Regions from separate parts of the Homo sapiens genome. Here region 2 is linked to region 1. Evidence: fine-mapped expression QTL. A gene starts in region 1. The other region holds a variant in brackets. All regions are shown on one strand. Distances are between the middles of the regions.

What was found. PIP is the estimated chance that this variant, and not a neighbour inherited with it, causes the effect.
Region 2: its variant is the best candidate, but not a certain one, in a credible set for the expression of FN1 in blood mononuclear cells (TOPMed, PIP 0.62).

What each region holds. Positions count from the first base shown.
Region 1 is chr2:215,431,058-215,439,627 of GRCh38, forward strand. It overlaps FN1 (fibronectin 1), which reads right to left and starts at 5,011. Exons shown (of 46, transcript NM_212482.4): 1 at 4,598-5,011; 2 at 3,639-3,767; 3 at 2,267-2,404; 4 at 776-907. The coding sequence starts at 4,745. FN1-DT (FN1 divergent transcript) reads left to right here and starts at 4,634. Exons shown (of 2, transcript NR_187198.1): 1 at 4,634-5,252; 2 at 5,862-7,888. RefSeq lists an enhancer at 2,323-3,522 and silencers at 5,035-5,094, 5,105-5,194.
Region 2 is chr2:215,497,153-215,513,480 of GRCh38, forward strand. No RefSeq gene overlaps it. Among named protein-coding and RNA genes, the nearest start is that of FN1, 69 kb to the left of the region's middle. The variant T/C (reference allele first, on the strand shown) is at 8,403.

The DNA of each region.
Region 1 (8,570 bases):
GAAATTCCATTCTCCTAATAAGTACATGGACTACATATTTTCAGCGAGCCCCAAACTTCCCAGCAGCATTTCCAGTAGCAAGGATCTATGTATGTATCTAGTCTGTGGGAGACTACATATGCAAAATTCCAATCTTAATTATAAATGACCAATTATGAATTTTGAGTGGCCTAAATACAATGACAAAGAAAGCTATTTTTAAATATTGGAAAGCAAAACAATACAAAACAAGACAAAAACCTCTAAATTAGAAGACAAGTAAACAGAGTAAAATTTATAGCCAGAAACTTTCAGGCTTGTACTTACAAAATTCAACTGAGGATTGAGATCCAAAGAAGCTCAACAACTTTTAATTTGAAAAGAAATGAGCAGAGTGTGACAAGCACACACTATTTCATGTTTCGGTCCAGGACATTCCATATAGAAATGTGTCCAAAGTGTCATTTTTTTTTCTTTTAAATAAATTATATCTTGACGAAGGAGGAATCTGAGATCAGCTATTAGGTAAAAGAAATGACTCCATTCTAAATCTTTCAATTCTACCTTATGCTTTTGAAGCAAAGTTAAGACTTCTATGTGTAGTCAGTACTTTTTGATCTAACTCCTGTAAGAAGACTATGGATTATATAATAATTCATTATTTCAAACAAAATTCCCATTTCTTTATTGGTTTTCACTGGAATTCAGGTCTATGACCTATGTAGATGTGATTCTGGTCCAACCCCACATTAGAACTAAGCATCCCAGCTCTTGCTCAGCCCTAAGACTCACACACCTATGGGCTTGCAGGTCCATTCTCCTTTTCCATTACCAAGACACACACACTCTAACATGTAACCACCAGTCTCATGTGGTCTCCTCCAGGTGTCACCAATCTTGTAGGACTGACCCCCTTCATGGCAGCGGTCTGTTGAAGATACAACGAAAATGTTAGGAGAGGGCAGAACAGATTTTTTTTTTTGGTCTCATATTCCACCCATGGTAGGTACTTAGGTTGGCTAAAGTAGAGACACAGACAACAGCTTTCCCATCAGAGACAGGGGAAACGTTAACAGGTCTGGTCACTTGGAGTCAATTCAGTTAAGTGTCTTGCTTAGAACACAATGGAAAACCACAGAGAAATCTGGATGGCAAGGAAGAGGTCATGAATCCTGCTTTCCCAGAGAGATCACAGGAAATTGGGTCCTAAGCAGAAAAGAAAGGCTGGGAGGCTTGGTCTTCACTCATACACAGCAGGCTAAGACTGAGACTAATTCAGTGAAAAGGCCACATCAGGCACAGCACTCCAGCTTTTGGGAGCATGGAGAGCCTGTATTTTACCCTAGGATAGAAATGTCATTTTGGTGGAAAGCAAACAGACATATGCATATAAAGTGTGGAAATCCTGGTAGTTTTCTAAGTTGTTAAGCCCAATGGCACATTCAAATGCTGAACTAGATTGTAAACACTATGGACCCTTGCCTCTTGCGATTTGCCTGTGAACTTGGATAAACCCTAACATGAAATATGGGGAAAGTTGATTGGGCCTATTCACACGGGACTTGTTCTTTTGAATAGAAGTCTTTAAGACGACTTATATTTAAAGAATGGATTAAAAAACTTAAATACTATCTTAATAGAATCTATTGGTAACCCAGTGAATCATACTGGAAAGAGTGCCTTAGCTAAACTAGAGTTGAGAATCAGCCCGGTTCCCAAAGTTCCTTAGCAAACTCTATTGGGTTAATAATTTTGTATTATCCCTAGGAATAGTGACATCTGCTTCCTGGGTATAACCTACTGGTCACCAAGAAACCAGACTGTTTCTGTGAGGTGCAAGAGGTCTCTGCATTGCAAACATGAAGACCAGACAACACATGGCTGGTTCACTCTTCATGAACACCTTCCCAGTCACTGCAGAAAAGTCTCATGATTTGTCTAGCTTGAAGATATCCAGGTGATTTAAAATGGGCAACTCCCCTAAGCATGTCTTACTGAAATGGAACCCAAGAGGTCTCTTGGTTCTACTATGTACAGAAACACACACACTCATAAATGCACACACACTCATAAACGCACACACATCAAACACTGATTCCATCTGTGCTCATACCCGTCTTTAAGAAACACAGGAACCAGTTGGGTGACCACTTAAGAGTACCTGGTCACCAGGGGCAAACCTCAAAGTTCGGAATATCCAGTCATGGATAACAGAAAATGACAGTGATGGTAACAGAGAAATTCATATTTGATATTTTGGCATCATTTTACACAATCTCTTCCTTACTTGCGATGGTACAGCTTATTCTCCCTCGCCCAGCCCCGATGCAGGTACAGTCCCAGATCATGGAGTCTTTAGGACGCTCATAAGTGTCACCCACTCGGTAAGTGTTCCCAGTGTACTTGTCAAAGCAAGTCTCTTCAGCTGAGGGGAAAAGGAAAGTCCATGTGAGCCTCACTTAGGTACAAGCTTTTCTAGTTCACTAATCCCCTCTAAAGGAAAACCCACTTCTCTATTCCACAAGTAACATGGTACACCTCAAAGAATAAAATGAAGTGAGAGATACAGATTTTTATCCTAAGCTCTAATAAGGCCATGGTTTTTGACCTTGACATATTGTCAAATTTTCTGTAAATTATTCATATTGTAGAAAAATCTCAGGCTCTTAGGAAAAGGCCATATAAAGTACTAACTTATGACAGAGCTAGATTTGTGAAGGGTTTCACATTCCAATCTCTGACTCAGAAAGTCAAAGCAAGGTTCACATAAAAAGCAAACGATTGGCCGGGCACAGTGGCTCACGCCTGTAATCCCAGCACTTTGGGAGGCTGAGGCGGGTGGATCACCTGAGGTCAGGAATTCGAGACCACCCTGACCAATACGGTGAAACCCCGTCTCTACTAAAAATATGAAAATTAGCTGGGTGTGGTGGCATGTGCCTGTAGTCCCAGCTACTCAGGAGGCTGAGGCAGGAGAATTGCTTGAACCCTGGAGGCAGAGGTTGCAGTGAGCTGAGATAGTGCTACTGCACTCCAGCCTGGTGACAGAGCAAGACTCTGTCTCAAAAACAAAACAAAACAAAAACAAACAAACAATTCGAAGATCCCCACCTCCCACAAGGCCTTGACAGTTGTTAATCCTATGATTTCCATTTTCCCCTGATCAGTGCTTCTCTGACAGAGTTGCTATAATTTATGAGAAAAATATCATTGGTCCTAAAGGAATGAGAACTTTGAAGTGGCTAATGGTTTTGTGTTAACTGCCGCTGACAAATCATTTTACGATGTAAGTCCCCAAAGTGTTTTCTGGCTCATAAACTAACAGTTTAAGATTTGAGACTGCTTTCTAATAAATTAAAATTTTATAAGCAATTTTTTTTGTCGGAGGACACACAAAATCTTTCATTTTTCTCATCAAAAACTTTGGGAGAGTAAAGCAAAAAGAAGACTCTAGGAACTAATTTGGGAAAGATTCGTTTCTTTGTTTTAAAGGTAAAAGCATGTGAAAAGCAAATATAAGCAGTTTTTAAACTTAAGAGGAAATGACAGGTAATTCTATTAGAAAAATGGTGTATGTATTTTTACTTACTAATGCAAAGTTTAACAATTACCACTTCATGTATTAAAAGATACTAACTATGGGGCTTGTTGTCACTTACCTTCAGGTTTACTCTCGCAGTTAAAACCTCGGCTTCCTCCATAACAAGTACAAACCAACGCATTGCCTAGGTAGGTCCGCTCCCACTGTTGATTTATCTGATAGTGTTTTCCATTGTCATAACAACCGGCTGCAAATAATTGAAGGAAAACGTTACATTTGCATTTCTCCTTTTCCCAAAATTATGGAATTTTCTTCATGTGAATATTGACGTACATATTTTTTTCCTTTTAACTTTGCTAAAAGTTATATACAATGATGTCATTTCCATCTGGCCAGGGGTCTACATAAAAAAGTTGGAAACATTTTGGAAGGCAGACAATTGAAGTCACATTTTTAAAACATGCAAGGAACTTAAATATTCTTTTGGAGTAATAGTCAAAAAGGACAACTTTAAGCAGCTTTCTCAAAGCAAAAGGAGGGTGTGTCTTTGAAAAACGGAAAGAATTCCAACCTCTGTTCTTGGTGAAGTATCCTGAGCGGCCCTAAAGAGGTCTGAACCAATTACATCTCTTCCAAGTTAGTTAGAAACAAGACAGCTATTTCAATACCCCCTTTCCACCCCCATGTTGAAAATATTTGACCAATTATTTAACAGAAGGAAATAAGTAGCAGTAAGGACCACACTAATCCCAGACGGAAAATTTATAGACATGCATCATTTTTCTCTTTAAAGGCAAGTTTTGGTTAATTCCTAGAAGGACAATCTGAACGTGCAGAATTTATTAGAACACGGGAAAGTCGCAGAGTCCTCGTCCTCCAATGCACGGTCTTATCATCCCAGGCCCTCAGAACCAGCGTGCTCAAAACTCGGTCCTTTTGTGTGCACAGCTGGTTTCTCTCAGTAAAGCGCGCACACACTCGCACACACGCGCGCGCACAAAACTTCAGCCCCAACTTTGGTCGGCTTTAGGGTCCCATCCCTGAGGCAGCCTGTTTCAGCCCGCGGTCAGTACTCACGCTTGCTTTGACTGACAGCCACCGGGGACTGGGGCTGAACCATTTGCTGAGCCTGCCTCTTGCTCTTCGAGGCTCCCGTGGAGGGCACCGCTGTCCCCAGGCACTGGACGGCCAGCAGCAGCAGCCCGGGCCCCGGACCCCTAAGCATGTTGAGACGGTGGGGGAGAGACGCCCGCACCGGGAGGCAAGTTGCCACCAAGTTTGCTTCCCTTCGCAACCTGCGGGAAAAATCCCTTCTAATGCCTCCCGGGGGTTGTCGCCTCCAAGAAGGTGGGGGCCAGAGGGTGGGGAAGGGGACGGGTGGAGGGACAGAAGGGATGCAGAGGACCAGAGAAGTTGTGGCTGCAGGTCCCCTCTTCCCGCTCGCGCCTGGGGTTCCCTCTCCTCCCCCTGTGCAGCACAGCCGGCGCGGGCGTCCGAGCGCCGGGAGCCGGGGCTTATATGGGACGGTCCCCTCCCGCCCCTCTGGAGGCCCGGGGCGCGGGGGAGGAGAGACCCGCCGGGCTGTCCCCGCCCCGCCCCACCCCACCCGCCCGCCCGCCCGCCGGCCGCCGCAGCCGACCGCGCGCCGATTGGCCCGGGCTCCGGGTGACGTCACGGGGGACTGTGGGTTCGCAGCGAACAAAAGAGATGCTGATGGCCCGCCAGGACTGGGGCAAGACAACTTTTTTTCGGTTTCCTTTGCGGTCATCAAACTTTTTAGGGGATGGGGGAAGGGATGGGAAGCGGCTGGGAGGAAAGGGAGTGGCTGGACTTGTGTGAAGCGAAGGGGTTGCAAGACGCTCCCCCTTCCCTTTTCTTTTTTATTGGGGGTGGTGGTAGTGTTTGAGGACATTGCGTCACCTCTCTTCGGGGTGGAGGGGGGGAATCTCTGCTTATAGGAGTGTATTTTGTGAGGAAGAAAACCCATAAAATATCCACGACCTTGCAGCTGTTAAGAATCCAGACTTTTCAGTCCCAGGGCGGGGCTGCCTTTCCCCCCATCCCGCTCCCTTTCTTTGGACTAAAGGGTACTGACTCGGGACTCCCTTATTTTGTCTTCACAGCTCCCTGTTCGGACTTCTTCCCTTCTCAGCGCTGTGCCTGTCTGGCTCTGAGAAAGGGCCAGCGGGCGAACGGGGAGCAAAGGGGAACAGAGACCTTTAATGAGCTTCTACTAAGTACCGGGAGTTCCGCGGGGCGCTTTGCAGATCCCGGGGAAGTTCAGAGAATGAAGTTTTCTTTTGCAAGGACAAAGTAACAGTTTACTTTTTTACACATGCAGGAAAGCCTTCCTTTCCTGGGGATGGGACGCCCGTTTCCACTGAAAGTGAAATCACTGTGAACAACCTGAAAATTGGAAAGTTGGACCAGCTGTGGGGAGAGAAAGGTCTTCGTGTCCTTTCCCACGTTCACCGTGCCAGTTACACACAAAGCAGAGATTTTTTTGCTTGAATCATTAAAAGCCGGGTGGGTGGGGGGCACCCTATGTACTGTCTTGCCCTCCTTCGGCCCCTTTCTCACATTTATTTGCCATTTTCTTTTTGCTGACAAGTTCCATTACAGAATGCCCCCTCCATCCCCCGCCGCCAGATTTTTTATATTTCAATTGTTATTTACTCCAAGAGTGTGGAAAGTTCTCCTTTAAGATTCCCCCGCCTTGAACTCTAAACTCAGAGTGGAAAGGGAATCTGAAAAGTCTCTCATTTAGCAACACATCACATCAGTCCTTTTTGTCAGATAAACACAGGCACAATTGCTTTTAAAGATCTTCAGAAGGAGGAGTCCACCACTTCCACAGTAGATCCAGAGAGACCCGAACTGAATGCTTTGCCTTCTCCTTGTGTTAGGAGTTCAGAGGTTCCATTTGCTTTAAAACACAAGAAGCTACTAATAAAATATATTTATTTCGGCAAGGTACCTATTTTCTCCAAAAGTTTCACCTTCAGTAATTGCCACAGGAGTAATTAGAACTCTGTGTTCTATAAAATGCCTGACACATTAAAGACACAAAATTAGCATTTGTTTTTATTCATGCAAGGATTTAAAACCAAACCAAAACAAAGCAAAACACCCAGCAAATATCAGTTTCCTACAAATAGTGTAAAAAAACCTCTTGAGGAATCTTTGTGACCCACACTCCAAATTGAAAGAGTGCCATGGATTTCCCCAAATTTAGAATCCTGTCTGGGTTAGAGGATTTTTTTGGAATTTCTCATCACTTGACAAAACAGTTTTCTCTTTTCAAATATAAAAGAGCTCCTTGTAAAATGCTTGGTAAATTTCTGGGAAGCCGAGTGTTTCTTCCAGAGGGAAGGATACCTGGAAATCCGGATGTAAGCAAGATAAACCTGTAGCTAAAGCTTTCTTAAAATTCATTGATTCTGGGGGAAGGAAATAAGTGATTAGAAAAGTATTTGGTCAACCAAAACCATGATAGTTTGATATATTTACTGCACTGAAAATACACTAGAATCATATGCATAGTGGAGCTTGAAGTGGAAAGCCCACCTTACATTTTGGAAGAAACTTTTATATTTCAATCCCATAGATATCTAATTTATTTAAGGAAACAGGATATCTCTGTCTCATAAGAAAAAAAATAACATCTGACTGATTTTTATAGGAATGCTTGGGAGTTTACTCTTTTACTTGAAAGGTTTTTTTTTTTTTTGCCTTTTTTTTTAAACTTTAGAAACAGAGGCGTTTCTTAGTTAAGATAACAGGGCTTACTACAGTATTCTTTAATTATCAAGGTCCCTTGTAACTCTAAGTCTGTTATCTCTAATTGGAGAGATAATTAAATCTTAAAGACCACTCTGACTCTAATTCAACCAACGTGTGTGGTGTCCAGGATCGTTGGACTTCCTTAAGAATTCTATTTTATCCAGGTGGGTTCTTCCTCAGTAAATTGTATTCTCCTATTGGTAGGAAATACTCTTGGATTTCTTTCTTTCTTTCTTTTTCTTTCTTTCTTTCTTTCTTTCTTTCTTTCTTTCTTTCTTTCTTTTTCCTTCTTTCCTTCTTTCTTTCTAAAACTGTATTCAGAGAGAGAAATGTGACAAAAAAAGGGAAATCAATAGAGACAGAAAGTAGATTCATGGGTACCCAAGTTTATGGGCTGGGAACAGGAATTAACTGTAAAAGGGCACAGGGAATCTTATTGAGGTGATGGAAATCTGTGTTCTAAAACTACATTGCAGTGATGACTGTACAATTTGGTAAAAGCTTCAAAATTCTGGGGATTATACACAAAATGAGTGAATTTTACGGTATGTAAATTATGCTTCAATAAAGTTGTTTTTTTCAAAAGTTGATTTTAAAAATTAGTATTTGTTCTTTTTTACTCTTAACCATCTCCTGATTTTGGTTTCAAAGACTTGCTCTCAGGTAGCAGCAACATACACAAGGCGTCCTCATTTCTTCATTTTTCTGAGAGGAAGTTTGCCTTGAATATAGTAGTGGATTTCTTCTACACCAGTAACTCCTTCTGAAACCTACTATTTGTGTGAAGGCATATATGTGGTAGAGACAGAACAAATCTTCATTTAGGACTGTGCCTTGTTTCTTCTTGGAATTGCCATAGTGATAGAATTTTCCCAGAGCCTCAGGCAATTTAAACTTTTTGTAACAAAAAGAAGCACATATATTTTCGGGAACTAGGGGGGTGTGGGTGGCGGGGGGCAATGGTATTGGGAAATTTTATTATTCCAGAAGGTTAAGGAGGAGCATGAGCAATTATGGAAATCTGAATTAAATTGATTTCATTTGTTTTGAAGATTAGCAATGGAGACATTTGATTAAGCACAAAAAATAATTGATCAGATCCAGTCATTTAGAAGGACTGAAATAAAAACAGGCTAGGTGTGGTGATTCATTCCTGTAATCCCAGCACTTTGGGAGGCCAGTGTGGAAGGGTCACTTAAGCCCAGGAGTTCAAGTCCAGCCTGGGCAATATAGTGAGACACTCTTAATAATAATGATAATAATAACC
Region 2 (16,328 bases), 70 kb after region 1:
GAGCCAGGCAGAACAGAGCCATATTTCTCTTCTTTCAAAAGCAAATGGGAGAAATATCACTGAATTCTTTTTCTCAGCAAGGAACATCCCTGAGAAAGAGAATGCATCCCTGAGGGTGGGTCTCTAAAATGGCCCCCATGGGTGCAGCCGTCTTTTATGGTCGAGCTGTAGGGATGAAATAAGCCCCAGTTTCCCATAGTGCTCCCAGGCTTATTAGGACGAGGAAATTCCCGCCTAATAAATTTTGGTCAGAACGGTTGTCTGCTCTCAAACCCTGTCTCCTGATAAGATGTTATCAATGACAATGTGTGCCCGAAACTTCATTAGCAATTTTAATTTCGTCCCGGTCCTGTGGTCCTGTGATCTCGCCCTGCCTCCATTTGCCTTGTGATATTCTATTACCTTGTGAAGCACGTGATCTCTGTGACCCACACCCTATTCGTACACTCCCTACCCTTTTGAAATCACTAATAAAAACTTGCTGGTTTTGCATCTTGTGGGGCATCACGGAACCTACCGACATGTCATATCTCCCCTGGACGCCCAGCTTTAAAATTTCTCTCTTTTGTACTCTGTCCCTTTATTTCTCAAACCGGCTGATGCTTAGGGAAAATAGCAAAGAACGTACGTGAAATATCGGGGGTGAATTTTGCCCGATATCTGGCTGAATTTCCCCAATACTGCTTCTCAGTGAGATTCAAGTTATGTGGGAGACCAATATCCAATCATTTACTCCAAAAAAGTCTCTGATCTGCTCATAGCATCATTTTCTAATAACAATGTGAGAGATAGATTTATAAACTGTTCAGGAAGACTAACACGAGTCCCTGTTGGAGCTGAGAGACTGGGATAGGAATAACTGGCACTTTTTTTTTTTTTTCTTTTAGCAATGTTTTAGGTTAAAGGGCAATATTAATCCTCCTTTAGAATCAGGTGGGTCATTTGAGGTCAGGAGTTCAAGACCAGCCTGGCCAACATGATGAAACCCTGTCTCTACTAAAAATACAAAAATTAGCCAGGTGTGGTGGCTCACACCTGTAGTCCTAGCTATGTAGGAGGCTGAGGCATGAGAATCGCTGGAGCCTGGGAGTAAGAGGCTGCAGTGAGCTGAAATCATGCCATTGCACTCCAGTCTGGGTGACAAAGTGAGATTCTGTCCAAAAAAAAATTATGCATTTTCTTATTTTCTCTGTATTCTCTTGAGACGACAGCTCCAGTCATTAGAAAATGTAAACTCAGCTTTCCTTTTTACCTTTGGTTAAAAAAAATAAAAAAGTATTCACAGTTCTCTTCACAACTAGGCTGGCTTACTTTGGCCTGTGTTTTTATTTGCTCTTTTCTCCCCTATGTTGCCTTCTTTGTGCCCTGTTTTTCCCTTTCTGCTTCTTCTGAGTCACATGTTGACGTAACTCAGTGTGAAGCCTGGGGTTTGAGAAGATGTGGACGCCAAGTCCAGGTACACAGAGATTTTTGTCTGATAACACCACATACACTCCGCCTGCAGACTTCCTACATTGGAAACATCGCATTTTCAAACGCCAATTTGCCAAGCAGGTTGGCTGTGAATGTGCCTGCCTTCTGCTGCTTGTCGATGTGAGGCTGACTCGCTCCATTCCTCTAACTCTTGGGCTTCATTCGTGATTTAGCCACACTGATAAATATAGCTTCTTTTTGAAGTAGAGAGTCTAGATTTTTTTTCTCTCAGGCTTTAAAAAAATGGATTGCTTTATTCCAAACTTTATTTTTGATGAAATACAACTCACAACTCATCTTGGAAAAAAAAGCTCTTCAAATTTTGAACTGTTGAAAGTTTGAGTCTGAGGTGATATGACATGTTTTTGATCATTCAATAACTTTATTTCCTTTCTTCTCGATTGCTTCACAAGTTGGAAGTTACATGCACCTAATACCACTGTTCCTATTTGATGTTCTCAGATGTGAACAGGGGTGATGCTTCAATCCTTAATTAAATCTCCTCTTGCCCAAGCTCACTTCTACATTTTTACTAAGTTCTTTTCTATTCTATTTATAGTTTATGTATGTCTGAATTACATAGAATGTATGAGAGGGAAAGAAACATAATAGAGAAAATAAAGAGATACAAAGGAAAGAATAAAGTGAATGAAAAGACAATTCAAAGGGGGTGAGAATCTGAGCAATGGGTAGGAAATTTTAAGAAGAAATGGAATAGGGTTTCTACCTAAGAATATGAAATATTTCACTAGGTGTAGTTAGACAACTTGGCTTCTTTCATGAAACAAAACATAAAACTGGTATGTTTTCATAAAGAAATGTTCCATATTTTAAGACTGCCAAAAGATGACACCCACACATGCCGGTGGAATTTGGTAACATTTAACTGTGTGAAAACAAGAGGTCTCAAAGATAATGATTCAGAGTCGGCAGAGTGTTTATTTATCTTTGATTTAGAAAAGACATTGTCTGTTATTTGGCTGTAGATATGTCTTAAGGACTCTTTTAGGTGTGGTCTTGCTGAAACCAAGAGCTTAAGGCAAAAACAGACATGCTTTCCCCTTTTTGATGTTCATGCTGCACCAAAATACACCTAACATCTATGGTCTATGCTGGGAGACCCTCCATGATCACTTAACTTTAAATAGACAGATGGATAAATAGATGGTACTTGCTCTTACTCAGCACTGGTCAAATTTTTACAAGAATGTACTTTCCAGCTTGGAGCTCCACATCTTAAGAGAACTCTAACATTTGGGAAAGATTCAGAAGAGACTGTGAATGTTGATGAGAGGGTTGGAAAATGGAACTTATAAGAAAGAGTTAAAGAAATTGGAATTGCTTTTCTTGGAGAAGAGAAGTAACCTGGTAACAGTCTTCCCATTTTTGAAGTTACATAATATACATGATGATTGCCAAGTGTTTTCCTTCTCTATCAAAGAACATCAGAGGTCAAGTGCTCACACTGCATATATCACATATAAGGAAAACTTGTTGCTTGTGGTGGTGGTAGTGTTAAAAAGATAAACTGGTAACCATTGGCTTTGTAAAAACTTTTCTGGAATTACTTAAATATTGGATAGTTTTTTGGTCTCATATTTTCTGAGGATTGGAAGATAATACTTATGTCATAGTTCTTAATGCATCATGATTTATAAGTCTATAAGAACAAAAATGTATTTTAAAGAAATAAGTGTAGATAATGGCCCAAGATTCATAGAATCTATAATTTACTTTCCGTTAAATAAGTGAAACCAAGACAGGAGATGTGGTTTCCATAGTGACTTTAGGAGTAAACATTTTAGTGTGATACTCTGATTTCTTAAAAAAACACTGCTGCTAATTGACATAAGGAAAGGTAAAATCAAGTGTGTGTGTGTGTGTGTGTGTGTGTGTAAAATATACAATAGATACTATGTATAATAATACAATATACAATAGATATATGTATGCTAAGTTATATGGCCACCTAAGAACCTCAGTTAGAATTTTATTTTTTAAAAAAAGAGAAAAACCCCAGAGCTCTTTCTTTTCTTTCTTTTTCTCTTTCTTGCTTTCTTTCTCTTTCTGTCTCTCTTCCTTCCTCTTCCTTCCTTTTTTCTCTGTCTTTCTTTTTCTTTCTCTCCCTTTTCCTTCCTTCCTTCCTTCCTTTCTTTCCTTCTTTCTTTCTTCCAACTAAGTTTATTCTTCTAGTGATCCCCAAGTAGATATGCTGCTATGCAAAACTCCTTGTGTGAACCAATATACTTTAAATATTCCTCATGTTCCCAGGTTGTAAAATAAGCTGATCAATTCAATAATAAAACAATTTGAATGTCTATCTACTCTATAGTCACTGGTGATGTTGGTTATTTGGTTACCTCAATGAAGAAATAAAACTCATTGAATTCTTTGGCAAATTTCTACTTTTTGTAGTGCTAGGATCATAGAAACATAGTCTCATGATTCATCTGCATTTTAAGCTCTAATAGAACACATCACATTTTAGGGGGAAAATCAATTTTCACCTAATGTTAGCAAAAATGAGATTAAATATTGCACTTATCAAAAATAGCATTATGTGTTTTCCATGATGCAGGGCTATATTTATGTTTTGGTTTTTAATCATACAAATGCATTGTATTCTGTTTTCAGTTCCACTCTTATCACTAGAAGCATTTCTTTGTGCTGAGTAGAACTACAAATATACACATAATTCTCTATGAGTAGGCACAAACAGCTTTGCTTTTAAAATTTTGGCAGCAAATCATCTGCTATGAAAACATGGTTTAATAATTTCTGGTGGAAATATATTAATACCACAGGCTTTCAGATTAAGTCATAAAAAGAAAGGTTTAGATTTTTGTCTTTCACATTTTATTTTAGAAAAAAGACATACCACACAGGCTCACACCTGTAATCCCAACACTTTGGGAGGCCAAGGCAGGTGGATCACAAGGTCAGGAAATCGAGACTATCCTGGCCAACATGGTGAAACCCCGTCTGTACTAAAAATACAATAATTAGCTGGGCGTGGTGGCCTGCACCTGTGGTCCTAGCTACTTGGGAGGCTGAAGCAGGAGAATGGCGTGAACCTGGGAGGCGGAGCTTGCAGTGAGCCGAGATTGCACCACTGCACTCCAGCCTCGTGACAGAGCGAGACTCCATCTCACAAAAAAAAAAAACAAACAAAAAGACATACAGTGTTTATTTAATATAGTGGTTTTGCTTAGATGCTCACTTTTGAAAGTTATTTAATTGGGGGGAATGAAAAATGTTTTAAAACTTTATTGTGGACATTTTCAAACATTCAGAAAAGCAGATAGGATGGTGTAATGAACTCTTATCACCCATCATTCAACATTTATTAACACTCTGCATTCCCACTTTACTTACCCCTACCTCTCTCCCTTAAAACAAACATACAAACAAACAAACAATAACTTTACTGGAGCTTAAATGCACTTAAACTTCCTTTGGGAATTAGTGATATTTTTGTCAGTGTCTAAAATGTAAGCATTTTTATTAGTCAATTTATTCATAATTTTATACTAACATTTTGCTACAGAATACTGAGTATATTAATTTCCTGTGACTGCTGTAACAAATGACCACAAACCTAGTTGCTTACACCACCACCAACTTATTATCTTATAGTTTTGGAGGTCAGAAGTCTGAAATGTGTCTCAGTGGGCTAAAATCAAGGTGTCAACAGCAATGTGTTACCTTCTGGAGGCTCTAGGGAGAATCTCTTTTCTTGCCTTTTCTGGCTTGTAAAGGCTGCCTGAATTTCATGGTCTCCTCCATCTTCAAAACCAGCAATTGTCAGTTAAGTCCTTCTCACATAGCATTACTTTAACTCTTCCTTTTCTGCCTTTCTTTTTCTCTTATAAAGACCCTTCTGATTACATTGGGCCCAACTGGAAAATCTCATCTTTAGGTCAGCTAATGAGCAACATTAATTCCATCTGTAACTACCATTTACTTTTGCCAAGTAACCTAACATAGTCATAGGTTCTGAGCATTAGGATACCGACATCTTTTGGGGCCATTATTTTGCCTACCACGTAGGGCATATTTTATATTGATTTGCAAATATACATTTATGTCTTTCATGTGAAATGTATAATATAGATTTAACAGTCATAGAGAAATAGCAAAGAAGTATTTTACCATATTCTTTGGGTTGAGTCCACATCTAATTATGTGGCCTGATTATTCTTTAACTCACTGTTCAATCTGAACACACACAGTAGTAATTATCATCTCATATTTGGGAGAGTAAAGTAAAAAAACAGCAATAATAACAAAAATAGGCCAGGTGCAGTGGCTCACACCTGTAATCCCAGCACTTTGGGAGGCATGTGGATCACCTGAGGTCAGGAGTTTGAAACCAGACAGGCCAACATGGTGAACCGCTGTCTCTACTAAAAATACAAAAATTAGCCAGGTGTGGTGGTGCACACCTGTAATCCCAGCTACTCGGGAGGCTGAGGCAGGAGAATTGCTTGAACCCAGGAGGCGGAGGTTGCAATGAGCTGAGATGGCACCACTGCACTCCAGCCTAGGGGACAGAGTGAGACTGTCTCAAAAAAACAAAGCAAAACAAAACAAAACAAAAATGACCACGGAACAGATCAATTACAGTAGAATAGTTTACGCAGGTGGAAGGGCCTTCTGACCAGGAATCTTAACATCACAATCTATACATTTATTTATCCTAGAGTATGTCTGTAGCTCTGTTACCTAGGATGCCTCAGCCAACTGAAATGATAGGTACTTTCTCTCCGGCTTCACAACTTTGTCTTCCACAGACTGCCCTAGGCCCCCATGCCATGCCCAGACACTTATTTTCCCTTCATTGTGTTCCCTAATATTATGGTCAGTGGGGAGGCCTCTTAGATTTGCCTTACAGTGAAGAGGGATGGTGTAATTTCACTGTTGCCACTAGCCATAAAGTTGCAGACAGAGAGGCTACAGATGTGGAGCAGATGTGCATAATGATCATTTAAAAAATTCTTTGTATAGCTCTCATAAAAAAGTGACTGTGATAAATGTTTGTGTGTTTGGTGCTCACATTCTATTCTATTATTTAAACAGAATCATTAACTTGTTTGTACTTTACAATCTATTTTTATTTGCACTAAAAACTATTTATTACTACATTATTTCTCTTGAGCTTGGGAGGATGACAGCTTTGCCCTCCCTCCCAATTTAGGATGAATTCATTTACCTTTCTCTTTTTCTGTTCTAGACGGAGTTGTTCCAAAGGATGGGGAAACACCTTCCTTGAAAGGAGCATATCTCATGGAGGCAGCATCAGCATTAGAACCAGGTGAAATCTGAGCCCAGACACTCGATCTAGTTAATTTCTCTGAGCCTTCATTTCTTATTTGCAAAATGGGACTAACAATATAATCCATAAAGTTTCTGTGAGAAAATGCAGGGATAATTATAGAAAGCAGGTAGTGCTGTATCTGGTGGATTAAAGGTCTGTTCCCTTCCCTTTCCTATGGAGGAGGCCATGCCACTAGAAAAACACCTTTAGACCCACAAACTTTTGCTTTTAAATAAAATTAGTTTCCTATTTGTGGGTATCATGAAAATTCTTAGATAGACTTCCACAAAATTTGGAAAGTATTGTTTAGGAAGATCTGATTTAGAATTTGGGTTATGTGGCATATGATAAGAATCACTTTAGGAGATCCTGGGAAGCCTCAAAGAAGTAGGCAGTCATCATACAGGAGCTGAAAGTAGGGTTGAACAAGGGGTATGAATAAACGTCATTTAGGAGAGGCCTGTCATATTCAGTAATATGCCCATAGATGGAACAAAATGGAACATTGGTTTCCAATAGGTCCTTAAATTGAAAGCCATAAGGGTAGGTGCTTTGCAAAGCAGGTATGATTTGTATCCAAATTACCTCTCACATGGGCACCTTGTGGATTTCTCTGGACAGAAGTGCAGCAGGAACCTACTTTTTAATGAATAATGGTTATTGAGTCATTCAAACATCCCAGAATAGCCAGTGGGACCTGGCTGTTCTCCCTTCAAGTTCTTCGCCACCTGTAAGTCACAGAGCCACAGCTGTGGTTCTTCTGCAGGGGCCACAGAGCCCTTCCTCTGCACTTGGAAAAAAATGTCATGTGCTGACTCCAAGAGTGAGTCTTCTGGGGGTACAGGAGACACAGAAACAGAAACTTTCCAAGAAAAACACACTGACTAAACCAAATGACAGAGCAGAAAACATTTTCTGATAAGGCAAAGGGTAATAACTTGGTGAGAATTACACAGGTAATTAAATAGTTGTTTCCAAGGGCTAGGAAAAGACAGGCATCGTCTGTGTTGGACAGAAGGGGAGTTTTGGATTTATTAACATGGATATGAGGGTTTAGGGTTATTTGTGTTTGTGGTAAAGAGCTCAGAGAAGAAGTCTTTATTTACTGCCTAAAGATTTAGTAAGTCAATTTGTTCCCTGCCTTCTATCTCATCCACAGACAATATCTTCTTAAATAGGATACTAGATTGCATGCATGATGTTAAACAAACGTGGAGTAGGAAAATCACCTTATTGAAATAGCTCTTGAGGTGTCCTTAACTCACAAGAACATTGGGAAATTTTCAGACTTTCTCACCAACAGAGGACATAAATACCAAAGGCAAGATGTAAAGTTATGCAAACCTCTGTGGCTGGAATAAATATTTTGTACTTATGGAAAGTCCACTAGAAGACCACTTCTGAATTCAGATCTGTATCAATTAATGGAAGAAAAAAATGGGTTGGAGGAGCCAAATGGGGAATGTTACAAGACGTATTAATGTATAATCAAAATTTAGAAATAGAGGTGGTTCTGAATTGGAATTGGCTTTAGATAAAATACAGAACAGGAAAGAATGGGAGTCCTCTGTTCTAGAAGGGTAGGCTGGCTACAATCGGGTGAATAAGACAA[T/C]TTCATAAGAAAACGTTTTGAAAGAATATGAGAGGAAACTGCAAGAGCAGAAGAAAGTAATAAACTCATTGCACAAGAATTTCAGAAGAACTAGGGTCAAAAATACAGTCACAATCTGGCAGCTTTCAGGAGGAGGTGGGGAGTAGATAAGGACAAAGAGGTGGGAAGGGAGATAGGGCCAAGTCCAAAGTGCCTTTCAGACTCTCCCTGAGTCAGCAAACCTTGCTTCTTTTTACTTTTACTTTTTCTGTGGGCTCTGAATGGTTCTTTTAATCTATATTCAGGCAGAGTAACAGGCGTGATGAATTTATAATGTAAAAGGTACACTTTGGGAGGCTGAGGCGGGAGGATCACGAAGTCAGGAGATCGAGACCATCCTGGCTAACACGGTGAAACCCCGCCTCTACTAAAGATACAAAAAATTAGCCGGGCGTGGTGGCGGGCGCCTGTAGTCCCAGCTACTCGGGAGGCTGAGGCAGGAGAATGGCGTGAACCCGGGAGGCGGAGGTTGCAGTGAGCCGAGATCACGCCACTGCACTCCAGCCTGGGCGACAGAGTGAGACTCCGCTTCAAAAAAAAAAAAAAAAAAAAAAAGCCAGAAACGCTCACTAGGCAAAAAAAAAAACTTCTCTTCGAGCAGCCTGGTAGGGCCTCTAGCTGGAGAATATTCAGTTGTGTTAAGGCATCTTAGTAGAGCACCAGTGGTATCTGGAAGAAGGTGCCCCCAAAAGCCTCTATCCCTCATCAGCAGGTTTACACAATTCATCGAACAGATTTAATAGTTACAGATTACTCTGTTAACTAGATTTTGAGAAAACAGTGCAGAGTGTTGGCAGAGCAAAGAGAGAAAATCAAATTCTGGAGTGTGGAATGTTTACCCAAAAGAAATGGCAGTAGCAGGAACTAGGAGCCTGAAGGGGGTGCCTTTGTGTAAAAATGTTTTTGATTTCTGATGCCTACAGCTGGATTTTTAATGTAGCTCAAGTCCGACAGAATGCAGGTAGGAAAAAGAAAGCAGCAATGAATTGTTTGCCTCTTCTTTAAACTCTGTTTCTGAAAATAAAATTTGTTAGTATTTTAAACTTAAAACCCTTCATGATTATTATATCCTTAGTTCTTATGTGTCACTGATATACTAAAATAGGTTGTGAATATGATAGAAAGTGAGATGAAAGAGAGAGAGTGTGGTAAGGCTGTGGGTCTGTGAAACTCCAAGGCCAGATGCTGCTCACCTTATTATGGAACAGGTATGTTGATTCAAGCACAGGGTCAAAGGAATGGGCCAGGGTGACTCTTTTTGGAATAATAGTGAACATGTGTTACTCACTCATAGACTCAACCTGCTGATTAATATATGTTATCTCTTGAATTTGAGAATGAAGTTGTACAATTCCCATTTATAGTTGTGGAAGCTAAGGCTCAGAGATACACAGTAACTTGCTGTGTAGCCAGTTGTGGCAAAAAAAAAAAAAAAAAAAAAAGAATTTGTATTTATTTCTGTCTGATCCTAAACAGGTGTTTTCCAGGTATGCACCCTTCCTGCTCACATTTTGATTGGTTTTGAATTCTTGTGTATTATTGACTGTCTACTTCACTAACATCAAGTATAAAACAAAAAATGTATTGCAGCCTAATGTTTAGCTTCTCTACTCTTTTATATTGCCTATATTTCCAGTTCCTTAGATTTGCAAAAGTTATGAAGTTAAATATAAATCATACCTGCAATTGCATTAGTATATTGGTATAGTGCCCTTTCATTGAGTTTGCAGGAAGTGAGCTGTCTTTAAGAATATCCAGTTGTAGGAAGTTCCTCTTTTTCTTTTTTTGTTACTCTCAAAAAGTCTTTGGTCTTTCCTTGTAGTAAATTACTAAGCACTCTAGTTTGGCTGATTTCTAGATTGAATATTAAAGAATTCTATGATAAAGCAAACTTTAAAAAATTACAAACACTGAATATTTTTAAAGTCAAAGAATAAAATCTGCAGAGGCTGTCCATTGGATGTGATTCAGCCACATGTGTTTTTGGTGCAGATTTTTCTCCCTTTCAGTGAAAATGTCTTTCTATTTTCTTGACTTTGATCACTTTGGTGTCAGGGTGCTTTATACTCAGTGGTCATCTGTCAGCCTTTTCATAAGTCAGTTTCTTGCATCCATCTGGTGAATGGCAAAAGATTTTGGTTTAGGCAATTGCATGCATTACTCAAAAGACTGTGGAGACTTTGAGAAGGAAAGAAGGAAAATCTTCATTGCATACTTTTAACTCTTTTTTTTTTTTAAATTAACTTCCCCATCAGAGTGTTTGAAAAAACATTTTGATATGGCATGTGAAATAAGAACAAGAGGAGGTGAGAGGCCTTTGATCTGTGTGCTCTCCTGAAATACGCATGACCAGCTCTAGGATAAAGAGGGTGAGAGGCTTGTGTTTTGCACCCACATCTCTCTTTCCATCAGTTCCTCCCACTCAGCTGCGTGGTCTTCTTGTTGCTCAGAGCCCTACCTTTTGATCTGGCTGCCAGAGCTGCATTTCTTTTGGGTAAACGTTCCACACTCCAGAATTTGATTTTCTCTGTTTGCTCTGCCAACACATAACTGCCCTGTTCTCCCAAAATCTAATTAATGGAGTAATCTGTTAAACTATTCAATCTGTTCAATGAATTGTGTAAACCTGCTAATGAGTGATAGAGGCTTTTGGGGGCTCCTTCTTCCAGATACCACTGGTGGTCTACTAAGATGCCCTCACACAACTGAATATTCTCCAGCTAGAAGCCCCCACCCAGGCTGCTGGAAGAGAAGTTTTTTTTGCATAGTGGTTGATTTTGGCACCTTTTACGTCATACATTCCTCATGCCTGTTACTCTGCCTGAATATAGATTAAAACAACCATTCAGAGCCCACAGAAAAAGTAGACAAGCAACTCTGAAATTAGGGTATAGGGCTGGAATATGGAGGATACAAAAGAGTCTACATTAGCCCCAAATCTGGCCATCACATGGGAGAGGCAGCTGACACAGATATCTAGAAAGCAAAGCAGAGGCTCATAACTCCTGCAGATTTCGGGAGTGTAGTCTGGTAGCCTGACTTCCAGGACCAGTTTATTCATTTACTCATTATTTTATTCTTTCATTCTTTCACATTTCTTGTACAACTATTATGGGTCAGTCATATGTGGTTAAATGCGCTAACAGTTCTGTCATTTTCCTGGTTGGAAAAGTAGAGTCAATTTACAAAAAAGAACAAAACTAGGGTTTCTGAAATAAAGATTTGTAATTTGCTTTTTTCATGCAGGTGCAAATTATCTTAAACTGATATAAAAAAGAAGAAACAGAAATTTTAAAATATATGTTTTTTACAAATGTGTACCATCTAATTATCAGCTAGAAGTCTTATTCTGTGAAGAGCTAACACAGGTTCTAGTGTAATAATAATAATCAGCATAACATTTATTGAGTATTTACTGTACATGCCAAACAACTGTGCTGTGTGTTTAACATGAATTTTTGCATTTAATCCTTAGGAAAAATTCTGTGAGACAGGTTTGTTATTACCTTCCTTTCCCAGATAAGCAAGCAGATCAAGAAATGTTGATCGCATAGCTGGAATTTAGAGCCTGAAATTGAACCCAGGCAGTCTGACTCCAGAGTCTGCAGTCTTTTGTTGATGTTACCTGTCTCTACTCCAGCCACAGGTGGTTCACGACCTATGATGGTTCAACTTAATGATTTTTTGACTTTACAATGGTACGAAAGCATTTGGTAGAAACTGTACATCAAGTACTCGTATAACCATTCTGTTTTTCACTTTCAGTATAGCATTCAATAAATTACATAAGATATTCAACACCTTATTATGAAATAGGCTTTGTGTTAGATGATTTTGCCCAACTGTAGGCTAATAACATAGTTGTTCTGAGTATGTTTAAGGTAGACTAGGCTAAGCTATGGTGTTTTGGTAGGTTAGGTGTATTAAATGGATTTTTGACTTAGGATTTTTTCAACTTCCGATGGATTTATCAGGATGTAACCCCATCATAAGTTGAGGAGAATCTGTTATTTTAAACCCGTAGAATTAGCTGTGCCTGGTGGTAGGCACCTGTAATCCCGGCTCCTTGGGAGGCTGAGGCAGGAGAATTGCTTGAACCTGGGAGGTGGAGGTTGCAGTGAGCTGAGATCGTGCCACTGTACTCCAACCTGGGTGGCAGAGCAAGACTCCATCTCAAAAAAAAAAAAAAATTTTTTTTGAAAGAATAGTACAATGTATGTAAGAGTGAAGCAATAAAGATACATGCACATGCATGTTTATTGCAGTACTATTCACAATAGCAAAGACTCAGAATCAACCCAAGTGCCCATCAATGATAGACTGGGTAAAGAAAATTTGGCACATATACACCATGGAATACTATGCAGCCATAAAAAAGAATGAGTTCATATTCTTTGCAGGAACATGGATGAAGCTGGAAACCATCATTCTCAGCAAACTAACACAGGAACAGAAAATCAAACACCAGATGTTCTCACTCATAAGTGGGAGTTGAACAATTAGAACATATGGGCACAGGGAGGGGAACATCACACACTGGGGCCTGTCAAGTGGGGTGGAAGGCAAGGGGAGGGATAGCATTAGGAGAAATACCTAATGTAGATAATGGGTTGATAGGTGCAGCAAACCTCCATGGCACATGTATACCTATGTAACAAACCTGCACGTTCTGCACATGTATCCCAGAACTTCAGTATAATAATAAAAAAAGAAAAGAATAGTACAATGAGCTCCTGCTCATCCTTTGCCTAAATTCACTGAATGTTAATATTTTGTCATGTTATCTTTCTATTTAGGTATATGTGTATCCCTATGTGTATGTGTGTGTGTCTAAAACAATTTGAAAGTACATTTTAGACAAACTGTATCTTTAAGAACACTTATATTCTTCTATCAAGGGACAGACATTGCATTTGGCATATTGCTTTAGTTCCTGTAATCTAGAAAAGTCCTCCTACCTTTTTTTTCTGTTATTTGTGACATTGATATTTTTGAAGAAATGAGGTCAGTGTTCTTAGAATATCATACAAGCTAGATTTGCCTGGTTGTTTCCTTATGATCAGATTCAGTTAAACTTTTTTTTTTTTATCAAGAATGCTACAAAAATGATGGGCAATTCTCATGATTTCCTATTAAAAGACAATCTCAACTTGTCTGGCTGACCACAGGATCTCTCTATTATGAAGGTACCTTTTTCCTCTTTCTTTGATGTTCAAATTGCACCAAATTTACCCAGTGAAAACTTCCAAGCCAGCCTCTGTATTCATTTAAAACATATTCTTTAGTGTTTGAGCATTTCTTTACTTTTTTTTTTCTCAATAATTTTTTTGTACTTTTCCTGCCTTTGACCTGGAATCATTCATTTCTCAAAAAGCTTCGGTGCCTTTTAATCAGGAATGATATTTAGAAACTAAAGGTCTGGGCACTAGTGTATTCACTGAAAAAGGATTTTCATTGTTTTGATTTATTTTGTTTTCCTACTTATTTATTATGGTAAAAAAACACAACATAGAATTTACTGCCTTAACCATTTTGGAGTGTACAGTTAGGGCTGTTATTGCTTTTAGGCCTTTTGAAAGGGCCTAAAATACATACGAATAGAAACAGAAATATAAATTCATGAGTGTTATTATTTCTATCACATTAAATTATAAGTTTATATGATGTCACAGGGCTTTTTTCACCTCCTCTCATTTCATATTTGTAACTTCCTTTTCCTATAATGTAAATCTATATATTAATTGCTTTATTATACACAAAATAGTTTGTTAAACAACACCAATATCATTACCAATAAAAACCTACTCAGGTCAAGATTTCTTTACATTTGTTTTATTTTTAGACTATATCTTACTGAGAATATATTGTCAGAGTACTGCATTATAAAGTTATTTGAATTACCTTTTCTGACTTATTATGAATTTCAGCTATTCATTTTCTTTGTTTTGTTTTTAAATTTTATTTTCTGAACTGAAAAGTATTTGTTTGGTCCTTCCCACAGAACCTGTATTCTTGACCTACATTTTTTTCATTCATTCATTCATTCATTCATTCATTCACCATAAGAACCTGGTTCAGTTTTAGGCATTGAAATATAACAGTGAGCTGGAAAGTGAAGTCTCTCACTCCTTAGGGAAATGAACAAATAAAGATAGTAATTTCAGTGGTTCATAAATTCTGTGGAGAAAACTTAAGTAAGACAAAGACTGAAAACGGGCAGAAAGAGCTACTTTGGATTGGAAAATCAGAGCTGGCCTTTTAGAGGTGGGGCTTGAACTGAGACCTCGGTACAGAGAAGAGAGTCAGTTGGCTGGCAGAGTGAGCCAGGCCCGAGGCACCGGCTGTGAATGAGAGGCATAGTACTGGGAGGTGAGAGCAGGGAGACCATTCTGACATCCAGAGAGGGACCCTCAGGCCGCAGTAAGGAGTTCTGATTTTATTCTAGGTTATAGGAGACTGGAGGGGTTTTACTAGCAGAGAATTGTGAGATCTGGCTTGTATTTTTCAGAGATCACTCTGGTTGCTGTGTGGAAACTGGGTCCCAGGCGGACACAGGTGAAGGTAATAGGTCCAAGTTCAACAGCAGGAGTCCACAAAACACACTGGTGAGAGGATCTGGCTGAGAGTGAAGCAGTAACAGAAGGGGTGAAAAAGAAGTGAGTCAATTCAGGATATGTCAAAAGGCATCCTAAAAAATTATTTTTGAAATTTTATCAGTGTTCTAGTTTTCATAAAATTAAATTTTCTTTTGTATGAAAATTCATGAGAGATAAATTTTTAAAAATTTTCTGACTTTAAATCAATCTTGAATTTACAGAAAAATTGTAAGTACACTACAAAGAACTCTTTTTTTTTTTTAACACCATTTTGGAATAAGTTGGTGGCAGGATTTTCTGTCCCATCCTAAACTTTATAGTGTACTTCTTCTTCTTTTTTGAAACAGAGTCTTGCTGTGTCACCCAGGCTGGAGTACAGTGGCCCGATCTTGGCTCACTGCAACCTCCAGTTCAAGTGATTCTCCTGCCTTGGCCTACCAAGTAGCTGGGATTACAGGCATCTGCCACCCAGCACAGGCACGCCCAGCTAGTTTTTGTACTTTTAGTAGAGATGGGGTTTCACCGTGTTGGCCAGGCTGGTCTTGAACTCCTGACCTCAAGTGATCTGCCGGACTTGACCTCCCAAAGTGCTGGGATTACATGCACGAGCCACTGCACCCAGCCATTACAGTGTATTTCTTACCAACAAAAGCATTCTCTTCTATAACTGCAGGGTAACCATCAAAATTAGGAAACTAATATTGCTTGATGACTATGCTTTGAATCTCAGATCCCACTGACGTTCTGCGAGTTGTCCCAATAATTTTCTGTATAGAAAATTCAAGTCAGAATCACGTGTTGCATTTAATTGTCATGTCTCCATAGACCATGTCAAATCAGAACAGTTTCTTGGTCTTTCCTTGACTGCACGATCTAGACACGTTTGATGATGACAGATCAATTATTTTGTAAAATGTCCCTCAAAGGTTTGTCTGGAGTTTTCTCATGATTAGGTTTTCATTTTGCACATCTTTGGCAGTAGTATCATGGAAGAGATGCTGTGTTCTTATTGCATTGCATCAGGTGGCGCATGATTTTTATTTATTTTATATCTGATGCTGTTCACTTTAATCCTTTATTTAAGGTAGGGTCTGCCAGGCTTACATACTATAAATGACTGCTTTTTCCTTTGAAGCTAGTATGTATTTTGTTAGGAGGTACTTTGAAACTATATAAACATCTTGATCCATATCAAACTCTCCATTTATTAATTTCTGCATTTATATGAGTATGGATTCATGGTTTCCCATTTTATTAGGTAGATTATAACCCAATACTATCATTATTTATA